Regions from separate parts of the Homo sapiens genome. Here region 1 is linked to region 2. The links come from fine-mapping of genetic effects on gene expression. Tissue or cell type: whole blood. Region 2 holds a variant in brackets; the other region holds the start of a gene. All regions are shown on one strand. Distances are between the middles of the regions.

Region 1 (8,105 bases), 50 kb after region 2:
GACTCTGGGTGCAAGCAACCCTTTTAATTTTGTGTCTTGGATTCCAGCCATAGGAGGCCTTCTTTAATGTGGCAGATGGCTGGAGACAGGCAAGCCAGGTTTCTAGACTCTACATTAAGCTGCCTTCCCTAGAGAGGAGTCTCCTAATTATGTTGCTCTGAAAAAGAGAAGAAAAGATACCTTAAAATGGACACATTAAACTTATACCACGTGTAAAGTAACCACTGTCTTAAGCATCTGCAAACATGTGGAGGTCAGGAAACCTTTGAGAATCTGATGAAAGCTATAGGCTTTTTCTGCAGAAAATTTGTATGTAGGTATATACACAAAAATGTGCACATTAATTCCCGGGGGTGGGGTCACAGATTCTCTGATATCCGTCCCTGAAGCTTCAAGGAGTCTGTGGCTGCCAGATTCCTGTGCTTTGAGTGGAGGCAGCTGTCATTCTTTTACTTTTTCATTTTTCAATACATTATGATCTCAACTTCTGAGCTATGAAAATAAAGGGTCTGTGGATTATAAGGGAAGCATTTCACACCAGAACACCAAAATTTTACTGGAAAAAACTCCTTTCAAATATTGGATAAAATTACTTTTGCATATTCTCTGGTCAGCATGGAAGGTTTGCTCATTCTGTTAAAGACTGACATGAAATCTCTTCTGACAAACATGATGAGCTTTTTCTTACTGGATTGTGGGGTGCGCCTCTGCACATCATTTCCTTGGAACCTCACTCATCTCAGAACTCCTCAGTTGAGTTCTGGCTTCTGCACTGTTTCCAATATTAAGAATTGGGTGCAGTGGGCAGTCTGCCAATTAAAGAATAACACAGAATTCTCAGAATTTGGAAAGGAAGCTTTATTGTTTCCAAGGACTCTGCTGGAGGAGTCATACAAACTTCGCCATTTCTTCCTCTGATGTCCATGTGCCATGATTGTCTGAGGAAGGGAGAAAAAGTCTTTGAAGTGGCTACCAGGATCCTTTGCAGATCTCTGGGATGTCATTCACTCATGCTTCTATGCTGGGTGACTCCTACCATCATCACATTCTTCCAATTCTCCCAGTAGGGTATGCAGTAGTCATGTAGGCAGAGCCTTCTGAGCTACAGCAAACTACAAAATTAAGATATTTATTAATGATTTTCAAACCAAAAACAATTTGCCTCAATTACTAGACATTTTAAAATTAAAAAATACAGAAATGTTTCTAAATTATTCCAGTTCTTCATCTTCCATATATTGTCTCACCTTTCCTGAAAGTTGCCTCCTTCTTAGACCTGAAAAACTCAAGGAGGGAGTAGGTCATGGGCTAAACATTTAGGCTAATTCTCTACATGAAATTGATAATATAAATGATTATTGAAAAAATTCAAAGGAAAGGATCATTTCTTCTGTAAACATCAACCCAACCCAAGAAAAACTATTTGGGATTTAAATCAGGGTTTCTCAACCACAGCACAACTGATATTTTGGGTTGACTAATTTTTGGTAGAAGGAGGCTGTTCTGTGCATTGTAGCATGTTCAGCAGTGTCTCTGACCTGCAACGCCTAGATGCTAGTAGCACCGCCCTCCTAGTTGTGACAACCGAGAACATCTTTAAACATTGCCAAATGTTTCCTGGGGGTGCAGTCACCCCTGGTTGAGAATTATAGGACTAAATTGTCCAGAAATAGGTTTCTCTACAAGTAAAGTAAAATTGAGTATTGGAGTTGCTTTTATCTGGTCTTCTTGATCAGGTGAATGGCTAAATGAAAAAAGCAGTTTGTCTATTTTGATGCCCCACTGACTATGTCTATCTGTTCAGATCATCCTGTTCTACATTTGTTCTTAGATCCCATTTGATTGCCAAAAACAGGGACTTCCTTACTTCATTCTTATGGTTCTGGGATTCCTGTTCATTTGCTGTTTTATAATGTTTTTGACTGTATAGATATTTAGTGATCCCTCTGATTTTCCATAGTCTTTGAGGTCTAGGTAATTTCTTAGACCTTCGGAAGGCTGCTGGTGTGGTACTAAAATCTCCATTCCTCTCTTCTATGTTATCTCTTCCAACTTTAGACCTAAACTGAGCTCAAATAGCAAGTTGGAGAGGCTGGAGTTGCTGGCTGATTTGATCAGTATGTGGACACATAACTTAGGAAGCAAAACTGTTGGCTATGAGATTACATATGTGATTATGAAAAGGAATCTTGTAATCACAAATTCTTCTGACGTATGTACAGTGACTGCAAAACAGCAAATAATTTGTTTTGGGAAGGATTTTATTGGCTGTTTGAAGTGAGGAGTATCTCTACTATACAAAATATTTAAACCAAATTGTTATGTCCTATAATGTTCAACAAAGCACTCTGCAAACATCAGTTCTGGAAAAAAAAAAAACGTATCCTCCAAGGCAGGATTATATGCACTTCTGGGAGTTGTAAACCCATGCAGGCTCCAGAAATATTTGCCTTCCAAGGGCTGGAAACTTCTGAATTAACAACAAATAATCAGTGAGTGTGACAAAGAGTTAAAGTACACAGACTTTACTTTCTCAAAGTTTATGATGTAGTAAAGAAGTTTAAGATGGAGACCTGAAATTGCAAACTGGTGGCCAGTAGGCTAAATCGGGACCATGGATTTGTTTTGTTTGGCTTGCATGTAGTTGGCCTCCAGAATGTCTAACAGAGTGAGAGGAAGGGAGCGGGGTGGGGGGCGGGCAGGAGACAGGCAAAGAGAGAGAAAAATAGAAAGAAGTTGCTAAACAGATATAATTGAGATTTTCACATAAAAATCTAAATTTCCAGCTTTGCTTGAAAAATCAGAATATCTGCCAACACTGGGTCCTTATTCCCACATTTCCCTATGGTAACAGTTGGCTGGAATGAAATAGCAGTGACCCCTTTGGTCTCTGGAACTAGACACTCACTCTCTGGTCTCTTCCCCCACTTCCCCTTCACTCCTTTACTAGCCCTCTGTCACCATTTCAGATGGCCACCCCTAATGCAGAGACTTCTGGACATTTATTTAGTTTCTTCTCCACAGAAATAAACTTCTAGAGCCTGGAGCAAAATAGTGGCTGCGCCATTTGTGTGTCAGATGAGATGACCCTGGCTCGGGCCATGGAGGTGGCAATTGAGGTGTGAGAAATGGTCAGATTTAGGATAAATTTTGAAGAAAGAGTCAGTAGAATTTCTGATGGATTGGATTAGGGTGTCAAAGAGCATTCCAAAATGACCCCGATTTTGATTTTTACTTATTTTAAAAAGAAAACCTATAATAGAACATTGGAGAGCCAGTATTGACCTTTTCAAATAAAAACAAAATTATTCAAAAGCTTTTTCTTACTAGTACTATTCAAATCGGGTACCCTATGTGGTACCAATATTATATTCTAGGAAATACTGACGGTTTTGGAAATTTGGAGGAAAAAGCATCGAGAAGAGCTCCAATTACTTAGAAAAGAGAGTCCAGGAGATGGGGTGGTGTATATAAGCCTATGGATGGTGTCTCTGCAACTCAGTGGCCCCGCCTGTCCAGGGGCTGGGTCCCCACGGGATCTCCCTCCCCACAAGGAGGTGGAGAGGCTATGTGTCTTGAACAACTGGGGTTGCGATCCAGTGTATGGGCAGTCCCACTCCTGGAACTCCAGGGTGGGCACTCGCTCCATTTCCACAGGCCCTCAAGGGTTCCAGGATTGCCCCGTGGGAGGGGTTTTAGTGCTGCATCTAGTAAGAAGCTGTAAGATGCTCAGAAACATGTTTTGAAGCTACTTTGCACAGAAAGAAGACTCTTCATTCAGATTTGTATTACAGATCAATAAAAGTAGCTAAGTCGTATCTGAAGATGTTTTTGTTTACACTTTGTATGTGACAGAAAACCTCCAGTTGTCTGTGTCAAGGACAATTACTTAATTTTATTACAATGTATACTGATTTGGTTAGTGGAAGCTTCTAGCGCCTACTGTGGTGGTGGTGGGAGCTATCTGATTCCCATTCCCAGGCCTGGCCATCGACGCGAAGGCCTCCAGCTGATCGGAAGTCGGCGTTGGCCGGCGCGGAGCCCGGCGCGGAGGCTTCTTTCAGCCGCCCGGGCAAGACACCCCTCCCTCGGTCCCGCAGCGGTCACTCCGCCTCTGGCGCGCATGCGCCGACCCCAGCGGGCGTCCTCCCGGGCTCCCTCTCCCTCCCTCCCTCATCCGGGTCCTGGGCGAGCGGGCGCCGTGCGCGTGTCCCGCGGCCGAGCTGCTAATAAAGTTGCAGCGAGGAGAAGCGCAGCGACGGCGTCGGGAGAGCGCGCCTAGCCGGCTCGCGAGTGAGTGAGGGTCCCCGGCGCGCGCGGGCGAGGGGAACTGGGGGCTGCAGGCTCTGCCCCGGCGGACTCGGGCCGAGGCGGGGGCGTTCGGCCGCGGACGGAGCGGAAACGACCCAGGGCCTGTCGGGCGGGAGGTAGGCCGAGTCCTGGCCTGCCGGGGTCCCGGCTGGCGGACACGGTGCGGCCCAGCGGCTGCGGAGGCCTCGCTGGCTGCCCGGGGCGTCCTGAGGCGGGGCCGGGGCTGGCCCTCGTCCCAGCCCCGCTGTTACCGCCCAGACTTTGGAGGGAGGCGTCTGGGACGCCCTGGAGGGGACCCCCTGACCCCGCGCTGTCCTGGGGAGCGGTTTGCTTTCCTAACTCATCGGATGTACCACCCTGGATACACACCCTTGATAGGACTGCGGTGCTCGGCCGGGCAGCCTGGGCTGCTGCACTGCGAAGCTGTCCAATGGCTTGATGAATCCGTGCCGCCGTCGCTTTGTGTTTCAAAGATAAGGATCCGCGCTTATCGGTGGGAATTACACTCTGGGCAGTTGTGACCGGCTACTGCAATCAGCTGGTAGTTAGACCTGGTTTCTGCCACTTGCCATGTCAGTTTTCACCACTGCAAGGATTTCTTCTACTTCATGTAAACTTCTCTGTGCTGCAAAGAGAATGCCAAAGCAGCGTCTTTTTGCCTTCACCATATTCAGCCGCTGGCCGGGTCCTATACTTCAATATCAGGGCTCAAATTAATATTCCAGTCTCTTCCCCTCCCCTTTTCCCCTCTCCTCCTTTCAGCTGCTGTTACTACGTGGAGTTTGGAGCCTAAGCTTTGAAAACTCCCATGTGGCGCGCCCGTCTTAAGTCTGAGCATGCTCAGTAGCCAAAACAGATTTTTGGTTGCAGAACTCGGGCGAGGATACTTGGGGTATTTGGACGTTTGCCGGCTTCCCAACAGAATGTTCCGGTTCTGGTGGTGATGGCATTGGAGAATGGGGCTTAGGCAAGCCTGTAGGTGAGGAATGGCTGAACACCCTGAGCCAGATGTTTATCTTGATTGTAAAGACAATGTTTCCTGACCAGCTGGAGCTTTGGGGGGGGGGGGGGGGTGTTGCGGGGGGAGGGAGCAATTTTGGTTGCTTGTGCATTTAAATGGGTGTGGCGCTAAGTATATCTTGTTTACCTTATCTTTCTGTGGAAAAGTTTTGATGTCTAGGTTTGTCACATCATGCCTGTTGCCTAGCACTACCAAAAGGGTTGTTATCTAGCAGCAAAGATTGAATAGGTGGAGGTCGTGGCTTGGCCTCACAGAAGTTGAGAGGAAAGGGTACTTGGGTTGCGTTTTTGAAAATTCGTATTTAAAACTAGAGTACTTGAATTTCCTTAGAGTACCTGAATTGCCCAGAGTGAATTAGTTTTTAATTTTAATTTGAAAGACAAAAGATTGAAAACCTTAGTCCCAGTAGGTTTAGTAACATTCCAAATAGCTTACAATTTCTGCTAGATGCCAATGCAGTAGTATCCATTGTGGGGAAAACAGTACCTACATTCAGTGTGACAGTTTCACATTTATGGATCCAAATATCATTATGAAATTAGTGTTCCAAATTTAAGGAGCTATTTGCAGATGTATAACAAATTATTTTAGTCTTTTATTCCTTTGGTAACTATTAATATTTTTTTCTCTACAGTGAAAATTGTAAAAATGCAAAACTTAGACAATTTAACAAAACTTAACCTTCATAAAGGTTGTAGATACTATGTTTAGATTTATAAAGTTTAATTTTGATGATTATTTGTGTGATTGTTCCTATACAGCTTCCTTTCCTTCCCTTTCCACATTGTTGCTCCCTCAGTCTTTTTTACATTACTGCTGTTAATTTACCCATGTATCTTTGTTAAAAATACCTTATTCATCATTTTGTGCTTCCATTCCTTTCAGATCATAGCTGAAATAAGCAAGAAAAGTTAGATTAACCTTCTCAACTGACTTTACTCTCAGGTTTTAAAGGCATCCACATGATATGGTCTAGTTAAAAGGAGGAAGAGAGCAGCAAACTGGAAAAAAAGAATAAAATATTTTCGTAGGTTCTGTACAGATCTGGTAGTATTATCTGCGTGTCTGGTTCACTGTGGTAGGCGCCACAGAAATGGGTAGATTGATAATGTGTTGGATTTCTTTCCCCTCTGGCAAAGTCAGCTATTAATTTCAGTGGGAGACAGTGGCAGAATGTTGTTACTAATGAGGTTTGAATCAGATTGTTGTTTACTGTTGGTTATGTAACATGTTGCTGGGAGTATTATTAAAAGTTGCATTCTGCAGCAAAGTAGAGGCAAGTAAATTCTGCTTACCCTCTTCACTGGGTTTTAATTCTTGGCTGAACCTGAAGGCACATTAGATTACAACCATAATTATACCTGGGCAGCCTGTCTGTTTCCTGTTTTCATCATGAACCCAAACATTATGATTTGCAGTGATGATCTTTTTTGTCCTTTGCATTGAACGGAGGCAGTGTGTTTTCTCCCTCTACTGAAAACAGATTTGTAACTTGGTCAAATTAAAGATTTTAGTGTTTTGAAAACTAGGCAGTAAAATACCAGTTTTTCATTTCTTAATACAGTTACTTAAGTTGAAATACCATCTAAAAAAATCTATTTCATATATATTCTTTGTCTTTATGTAAATTTTAATATTACTAGTACTTTGTAGAGTTAAAGAAACTCTTTTTGTTTATGACATATCAGTGTTTATTATTACCAGATGTATATGTTGGTCTAGGCAATGAGCCACACATCTGGGTGAATTTCAGAGCTGACTTGAGTACGCTTGAGGATATAGGTGTCTATTCTCTTGGTTTATCAGTCTTCCCTGTTTTTACTTCTAGACGATCTATATTCCTTGTATCTGTCTGTCTGTCTCTCTGTCTCTCTGTACACTAACCACAAAGAAGGCAAATAGTTTATTTCTTCAAATGTTACAAGCAGCTTATAGCCTATGATTTGCCCGTCTTCTCATAGGGTCAAAGACATTGAGTAAGATTCCCTTTTATAAGGGATACTAGTAGCCTGAGGAATGATTCTTGTCTCCACCAGTCTGGATATTCTAGAGAAAAGAATACCTGGATATTCTAGAGAAAAGAATATTCTAGAGAAAAGAAAAGGCCCAAGGAAGCTGGGATGCAATATAGGGTGCTTTCCCATCAAAACAGATGATGAAGGACCCTTGGAAGCTGACCCATGGCATCCCCCCGCCACTGGGTTCTAGCTCTGTCGCCCAATCTGGAGTCCAGTGGCGCAATCTTGGCTCACTGCAACCTCCGCCTCCCGGGTTGAAGCAATTCTCCTGCCTCAGCCTCCCAAGTAGCTGGGATTACAGGCACCCACCACCATACCCGGCTAATTTTTGTATTTTTAGTAGAGACGGTGTTTCACCATGTTCGCCAGGCTGGTCTTGAACTCTTAACATACCTTGTTTTTCCACTTCTGAAGTTAATAGAATAATAGTCATTGGAATTTGCAGTTCATTGGTGTTGTCACATACCCTTTACCTCTAATCAGAAGTCTGAATCTGAGAAGTTTGTTTACTAAATGGGAGGTAAAGATTTAGAACTCTTTTGGAAGAATTGTTAAAAACTAGATTGTTGTTAGGACTAATCTCATAGGCCACCTTAATATTCTAACAGCTTTGTTGTTTTCCAACCTGGAAAGATGGGGTAATTACAGAGTTCTTAGGTTTTTCATAAATAATCAGCTAGTTCTGGGCTATTTATTTGAGAGTGTCTCTCTCTGTCGCCCAGGCTGGGGTTCAGTGACGCGATCTTGACTCACTG
Region 2 (8,105 bases):
GTCCCTCACTCCGCCACCACCAACACCACTGCTAATATCTTGGCTTCTATCATAGGTCTAGCTCAATAGTTTTCCCCTTAGCTCAGTTTCTCTCCCCTGAAAGGTTCAAGTTTGGGCTCCTCTTTCTGTGCCTGGGTTGTTTCTCTCCCAGAGGGAGGTGCTCGCTCCTGATGTTCGCTGTTCCCAAACCCCTATAAGGATCCTTCAGTCCAACCTCTTGGGTGGGGAACAGAGGGGGTCCGTGAATCTCCAAGGTCCTTCTCCTGCTTGCCAAACTGAGGGAGGAACTCCCACTAGCCCTAGGTGTAGCAGGGGGCCCGCCAGCAGTCCCTGGGGCTCTCTGCTTGGGGGCGGGCATAGGAGGGGAGGTGCACACTGGAGAGGAGGCGCGCGGGACCGGAGGCGCACACCGGAGGGGAGGTGCCCCCACCAAAATTTAAGTGCGGCGCAACATGCACCACAGGTAGGGGCACTACCAGGGCAAAAAGACTTGGTGAATGCGAGGGCCGGGCCTGATCAAAGGTGCGTATGGTGGTACCAGAGCAAGGCGGAACAGCTGCTCAGTGGTCCGCAACCGGGTCAAGGGACAAGAAGACGATTCTGGATTGTAGGCCGCCCGAGAGCGCCCCCAGGAGCCCATCACTGCGAACACCCACTGCCTCTGGGCTTGCATTCTCTGCCTCCCCAGAGACGCAGGCATTTTCTCCCCTGAAAAAGACCCCTCCCCATACCAGCCTAGACTTTCCCAAGGGAACTGAGGCCACTTCAATCTAAAGCCCTAAGTATAGGCAAGTTGTGTTCCACAATTCTACTTATAGGGATTTAATATGAAAAACACATGTGCATGTCCCTGTGCATTAAGCTACTTAAATCAGCTAATACTCAAATCTGGTCAACAATGTACTAGACGCTGTAAGTACAGCAAGGGGAGAGGCCCCTGCCCTTGTATGGCTTCTAGGGGGGAGCCCCCACGCTAAAGGTAAAGACAAATTGCATAAAATGTCTGGACACGATGCGAACAGGTGAGAATAGCGTAGGTACAGGCCGCCAGGGAGGAAGAAACTTGGAACTTTCAAAGACGTAAAGAAAAATTCGGAGCGAGTCTCACTCGCTGTGGTCCAACAGGCAAGTCCTGGCGGGTGGCAATATATGTGAAAAAAACAGTCATACAGATAAAACAGTAGACGGCAGCTATTGCTGTTAAACTTCCGTCCTACTTGGGACGAAATCCATAACGCACTCCGCGGTCCGAAGTTGTGGGGTCTCGGAGCTTCCAGGTGTGTCTCGTGAACTGCACAAGCATTTTTTTGTCCCCATGCGTCCTACCTGGCAGTACAGGCTGGTCACGCACGCCCTGTAAGACCAGTGGCCAGCCTCCATACTTTCTGTCACACCTTCAAAGTGACACCAACTTATGTTATCAGCCTATTAATTTAGCAAAGTTAAAAGGGATAAAAAATAACAAAGCCTTCAGAGTGACAGATTATACCGAATTTATTGCATAAAAGGGTCAGTAAGCACCCGCGGGTCTCGAACCCCAGCACAGAGATGGACAGATAGAAAGTCCGGCATGAGGAGGTAACCGCTTGAGCTAACTCCGACCCGGGTAGGAGTGTGCGACTGAAACTTCTAAACCATAGAAGAGTGACGATGTGGAGAGGGACGGGCTGCATGTGCTCCCCGCCCCCGAGAGGCCTGCGTCATGCGGTCTCGCCCGCTCTGCGCCAGGCGTCCTGCTAACGTGTCCTGGAGGGACTCTCAGTTCCTCCCGCCCGCATCCTGCGCGGGAACCGTGGAAGGGGGCAAAATCCACCCACTGGAGGGGAGGCAGGAGGGTGCGGGGGGGCGTGTGGGCCGTCTACCTAGGTCCAGCAGCCAGGCTGCTGAGGAGTACCCCCGCCAAAGGCTTTTCGGGGTTCTCTCCAGCAGACGGGGGCAGCCTAAGGCCTCCATAAAATCTCCCCGAAGCAGCCTATGAACTTGCCAAAGGCAGGGGTTCTGTGGTTTCATTTCTTGCCAGGTCCTGGGCTGGACCCTGGAGACGGAGTTCATCATCAGCAAATCCTCTTTGGGTGGGGAGTTGAATGAATTAATGAGTGATTAGCAGGGCACTAGGGCCCAGGAGTAAGCCCAGAATTGAGATCACAGGCTGAAGATTTAAAAGCTTCATAGCTCAAGAGAAACGCTCTGTTAAGGCTGAAGGAGAATAAATCATTCCTCTTTTTCCCCAACCCATCCCCTTGTCTACACTACTTTTCTTTTGAAAGATTCAGGAGCTGGATGGAGAAAATTGCTAACAAAGAAAATGGGACCTTCAGAATATTAATAATGTCCCTGTTTGTTGAGCACACACACACCATGTGCCACGCTCTGGGTTAAACATTTACCTCATTTCATGGCCGGAACAACTCTGAGATCCATAATGTTGCCCCCATTTTGCAAATGAATAAACTGAGAATCAGTGGTGGTAAGTAACTGAAATGTTAGGAATTAACAAAAAGTGACATATTCAGGAACAGAACCAAAGTTTGAACTCTCAAGAAAGAGTTGCCTGTAGTGTATGTCTGTCTGCCTGTCTTGCTTAAAAGTATCTCAAACAACTGGTAAGCTGCACTAGACAGGGATCTTCCATTCTGTTCTTTGCTGTCTCCCTATATCCTCCTCAGTTCCTAGCCTGGTCCACAGTAGACACTCAATAAACATTTAAGTGAGTGAGTGACTGGGGATAGTAGGACCCCATTATACTAGAAACTGCGCTGTCCCAACCTGGGTTTGAATCCAGCTTCCCCTCTTCCTAGCTGTGTAGCTTTAAACTTTTTAATTGTTTTTCATATTCATTTTGTATTAAACAAAAACCACGAGTACAGTAAAAATTAAAACAATAAAGGTAGTGAAAGCCCACCACCCTTGACCTAACTGCAGCTTCCAATCCAGATCTCTCCCCAGAGGTAACCACTGTTTTTTAAAATTTTGCTGTGTCTCCTTCTAGTCCTCTTTCTATTATATAAAGATAATTAAAAATATATAGCTTTATTTGGGTTATGGCTGTGTTTTGATATGAAGGACTGCACTGTACACATTGTTCTGCACCTGCTTTGTGGGAAATTCCACAGCATGCCTGGGAGGTCCCTCATTATTTATAATGGCTCCCCAAGAGTGCATGAAGCATGATTTGTTTTGCCATCCCCTGTTAGGGCTAGACATTGAAGGTTTTTTTGTTTGTTTGTTTTTTTCCATGAGTTTACCAATAGCGCTCCAATGAACACCTTTGCACACGCCTTTTTGTGAACATGGGCAATTTCATGAATGTGAGGATAAACTCTCAGAAGTGGAATTGCTGGGCTGAATAGCATATATGTTCATTGTAATTGCCAAGTTGTCATCCAAAAATGGGGCTATTGATAACATACCCCTGATGGAGGGAGGTATGGGAAGTTATGCTGAAATAACACATTTTATTCAGGCTAGGTACCTAGTAGTCTCGGTAAACAATTACAAAAATAACTGCCAATGACCATTTCCCCGCTAGCCATTTCCAGCTGCTGATCTGATCCAGCCCTGGCTTCGTTGCCTGGAGCCTGGATTTAGTAATGAAAACTGGCCAGCAGAAAGGACCCAGCGGGTGCGTTCCAGGTGCTCCCC[C/A]TGGTGGGGAAATGTCCCTGGACAGTAAGGAAATCCCCTGTCTTTGTACACTCTAAATCAAATCACATCCCCTCCCAGCTCAGCACCTTGAAAGACCTCCTCTCTTATAATCCAATCCAGACAGGGTTTACTGGATGATCAGGTGCCCACCTAACTTTCTGGCAGTACCTGGTGCCCCTCTCCTCTTTCTTTGCTCTGCTGCAACCACCTTGCCTTCTCTGGTTTCTCAGGCATGCCCTTTCCATCCTGTTCACTCTTTCTCAGAGATTCCCCACCCTCCAATCTCATTCTTTAACACTCAATTCTTATGCCACCACCTCAGAGAACTCTTTGTTGAACACTCTGTCTAAAGGGCCAGGCCACCTCTCTCCTCTCCACACACTCTCCTTACTCTTTGTTGCATCACCCTACGTCTTTCCACCATTAACAAGACATTAACCCAGACATTGCCAAATGTGGTAGAGACAAGTGTCACGAAGACAGAGACCATATCTGTCTTACGTATGCTATTTGTCTCCCAGTGCCTGCCACAGCACCTGGCAGTAGAAAGTGCTCAACATTTGTTACGTGAATGGATGAATTAATTAATAAATGATACCAACAAGCTGGAGTAGAATTGAAATTGAAGGCTAGCAGCAGGTGAGGCAGGACATACCTCCTGGGGTTTTTGTTTCCTGCCCTTCATATGCCCTTTCGTGATCAATATAATAATTTTTTCCTGGGGTAGCCTTTAGTCAGAGGCATTATCCTGAGTGCCCTGGAATAGTGAAAAGAAGATAGAGGAGCTTTCCACAACTTTACTTCCATAATCTTCACCAAACTCTGCAAGGTAGAACCTTTTATTTGCTGGATGAGTAAACTGAGGCTCAAAGGTAAAGTAGCATGTCCAGCTAGTGTTGGGCTCAAAGAATGGGAGTACCTGGTGAGGGGAAGGTTAGAAAACAGTCTCTTCCTCTAGTCCAAAAGGACATATAGTCTGAAAGGAAGTTCAATCTCATGCTTGTGCAATGGTGGTACTTCTCAGTGGAGAAATGTATACTGGCTAAAATTCAGTGGCAGGCTCATCTATTCAGCATACCTTTAAAGATCATCTACTTTGTGCCAAGCCCTTCAGGGTTGATTAAGGGGGTAATTTCAGCCTTCAAAAGCCTTACAACCAGGACATGTAACAGATCATTGTTCTGTAGGATGTCAAGTGATATATTTGGAGTATGTACAGGCAAGGCTATCACATATGGCCAAATTGTGCATAACTCAAATCTGGGTGTTGCCCTTCAGAATGACTGTGATGTCAATGGTACTCTCCAGAGTTATGCAGTGTACAACCTGAGCAAGCATACGTGGCTACCAGTGGGAATGGGATAAGTCATCTGGATTTAGGTGCACAATCTGACAAGTGAGAAGAGAATAGAAAAGAGATCTCAGAGGAGCATCAGTATGTAGCGTTCTGTGAGAGAAGAAAAAGCTTAGAACCAAGGCATTAGAGAAGTCAACAGAACAGGGACCAAGATGGAGGTGAGGCCAGCAGTGCCAGAGGCTGCACACAGTCAATCTCCCAAATGACTGTGGCAACAAGGAGTATGTTGTTCACCTTGGCAGGAGTGGTGAGACTGAGAGTCAGCTTTTTGATGGCTGAGTAATGAATGGGACATGGGACACAGTGTGCATGTTCAAATCTTTCTGGAAGTTGGGCTGTGAAAGGAGAGAGGGAGCAAGGGTTGTAAGGATATTCAGGACTAGGGAGAGCTTTGTCTTGTTGTAGGTTTTTCAGATGGGAGCCTGGAGCATGTCTAAACATTGTTGAGAAGAAGCAGTGGCAAAAAAAAAAAAAGTTGAAAATACATTAGAGAATGTTTTCACTAGCATAATTCATATAGGAAGGTTGCAGAAGAAGTGGGATTCATAGTAGGCAAGGATTCCAAATGATAGCTAGTCAGGATTCCAGAAGGCTTCATGGAGGTGGCATGCCTTAGTCCTGGGCAAAAGGGGCCCCTGCCCTAAGCCTAATGCTTTAAAGAGCCCTCCCTGGAAACCTCTCCACAGTGTGATAAGGAACTGTGAAGGAACCAAGGGAAAGGTTTGAACTCTATCTCCTGCCATATACAAAACGCAACCATTTAAAAAAATTAAATTTAGGTAATGATAAAGCATAGATTTAAGTGTATAACCTAACCCAGAACTCTTTTAGATCATGCTCTACATTACCAGAACACTCAAATCACCTGCCAGAATGGCACTGTGCCCACCTGCTTTCAGCATCTATGTAGGCCTTTTTCTCAGGGCATCCTTCCAAAGACAGAGCATGCCAACAGGGAAGCCAGCTCATTTTATGAGCCAGACAAACTCTTTATAAGAAAACAGCAGAAAATGTCCCTTATGAACATAGATGCAAAAATTCTAAATAATAATTTAGCAAATACAATCCAACAATCTATACAAAGGATAATACAACATGACCAAGTGGGGTTTATCCCAGAAATGGAAGATTGGTTAAACATTTGAAAATCAATCAACATAGTTTACTATGTTAAAAAACTAAAAAAGAAAACTCACATTATCATAACGATAGATACAGAAAAGGCATTTGAACATTTTAACATCAGGAATGCCTGATTTTTTTAAAAAAAAAACCTCCCAGCAAACTAGGAATGATAGGAAACTTCCTTAACGTAATAATGGCCTCTACCAAAGGGATACCACTAATAGCATACTTAAATAGAAAAGACTGTTTTCCTCCTATGATCACAAACCAAACAGGAAAGCCTGCTCTTACCATTTTTTTAACATCATATTGAAGGTTTTAGCCAGTGTAATAAATCAAGTAAAAGAAATAAAGGGTATCCAATTGAGAAAGGAAGAAGTAGAATTGTTGGCAGAATATAGAAAATCTGAGGGAATCTAGAAAAAGCTGCTAGAACTAGTGAGTGAGTTAGCAAAGTTGCAAGATACAAGATCAGCATACAAAAATAAATTGTATCCTCATTTATTAGCAACAAGCAATTAGACATTGAAATTTTTTTAAGTACCATTTATAAAAGCACAAAAAAGTTATGAAATACTTAGGAATGGATATGACAAAATATGTGCAAGATCCATAACTGAAAACTACAAAACACTTCTGAGAGAAATTAAAACCTAAATAAACGGAGAAACATATCTTGCTCATGGGCCAGAAGACTCAATATTGTTAAGTTGTCAATTCTGTCCCAATTGTTCTGCAGATTCAGTACACTCCTGATCAAATCCCAGCAGGCTTTTTTGTAAAAAGTTGACGAGTTGATTCTAAAATTTATGTACAAAGTAAAGGACCTATGTTAGCCAGACAACTTTGAAAAAGAAGAATAAATACGGAAGGCTATCACCACTCAATTTTAAGTCTACAGAAATCAAGACAGTGTAGTATTGGCGTAAAGATGGACAAACAGTTCAATGGAACAGAACAGACTCCAAAAATAGGCTCACACATATATAGATAACTGATTCTTGACAAAGTTGCAAAGGTAATTAGATGGAGAAGGTGTAGTCTTTTTAACAAATGGGGCTGAATCAACTGGTTATCCATATGCAGAAAAATAAAGTTTGAACCACACTTCCTCCCATACACAAAATAAAACCATTAAATAAAAATAAAAAGTAATGCTGGATCATAGATTTAAACATATAACTTAAAAAGCATGAAGCTTTGGCTGGCCATGGTGGCTCACACCTGTAATCCCAACACTTTGAGAGTCCAGGGTGGGAGGATTGCTTGAGGCTAGGAGTTCCATACTAGCCTGGGAAACATAGTGAGACCTTACTTATAAGAAAAAATTAATTAATTAAAAAATATTTTAAAAGTAAAAACCATACAACTTCTAGGAGAAAATCTTTTTGACCTTCAGTTAGACAAAGATTTATTAGATGAAAGATCAAAAATCAAAAGAATCACAAAAGAAAAAAATTGATCAACTGAATTACATCAAAATTTAAAACTCTGCTCTCTAAAAGATGCTGTTAAGAGAATAAAAAGACAAACCACAGACTGAGAGAAAATCTTTGTAAATGGTATACCTGGTAAACGGCTTGTATACAGAATAAAAAATAACTCAATAGTGAGAAAACAAACAGCTCATTTTTTTCCATGGGCCAAAGATGTGAATAGACATTTCACCAAAGAAGATATATGATAGCAAATAAGCACATGAAAAAAAAAAATCTCAGCATTGTTAGTCTTTAGGGAAATGCAAGTTAAAACCATAGTAAGATACTACTCCACATTTATTACAATGTTTGGAACAAAAGGCCATTTTAAGTGTTGGCAAGGATGTGAACACATATGCTGCTGATGGGGATGTAGAATGATATCATCACTTTGGAAGAGAAAGAGTTTGGCAATTTCTTAAAAAGCTAAACATACACCTATCACATGGTCCAGCCATTCTATAAGATATTTACTCAAGGGAAAAGAAAGCATATATAGAAAC

The links. PIP is the estimated chance that this variant, and not a neighbour inherited with it, causes the effect.
Region 1: SMAD5 starts here. The variant in region 2 is fine-mapped to the expression of SMAD5 in whole blood (TOPMed, PIP above 0.99).

What each region holds. Positions count from the first base shown.
Region 1 is chr5:136,128,670-136,136,774 of GRCh38, forward strand. It overlaps SMAD5 (SMAD family member 5), which reads left to right and starts at 4,176. Exons shown (of 8, transcript NM_005903.7): 1 at 4,176-4,293. SMAD5-AS1 (SMAD5 antisense RNA 1) reads right to left here and starts at 6,221. Exons shown (of 2, transcript NR_026763.1): 1 at 4,681-6,221; 2 at 844-1,112. RefSeq lists enhancers at 3,440-3,499, 3,530-3,579 and a silencer at 3,890-4,529.
Region 2 is chr5:136,078,994-136,087,098 of GRCh38, forward strand. It overlaps VTRNA2-1. Among named protein-coding and RNA genes, the nearest start is that of SMAD5, 50 kb to the right of the region's middle. The variant C/A (reference allele first, on the strand shown) is at 3,643.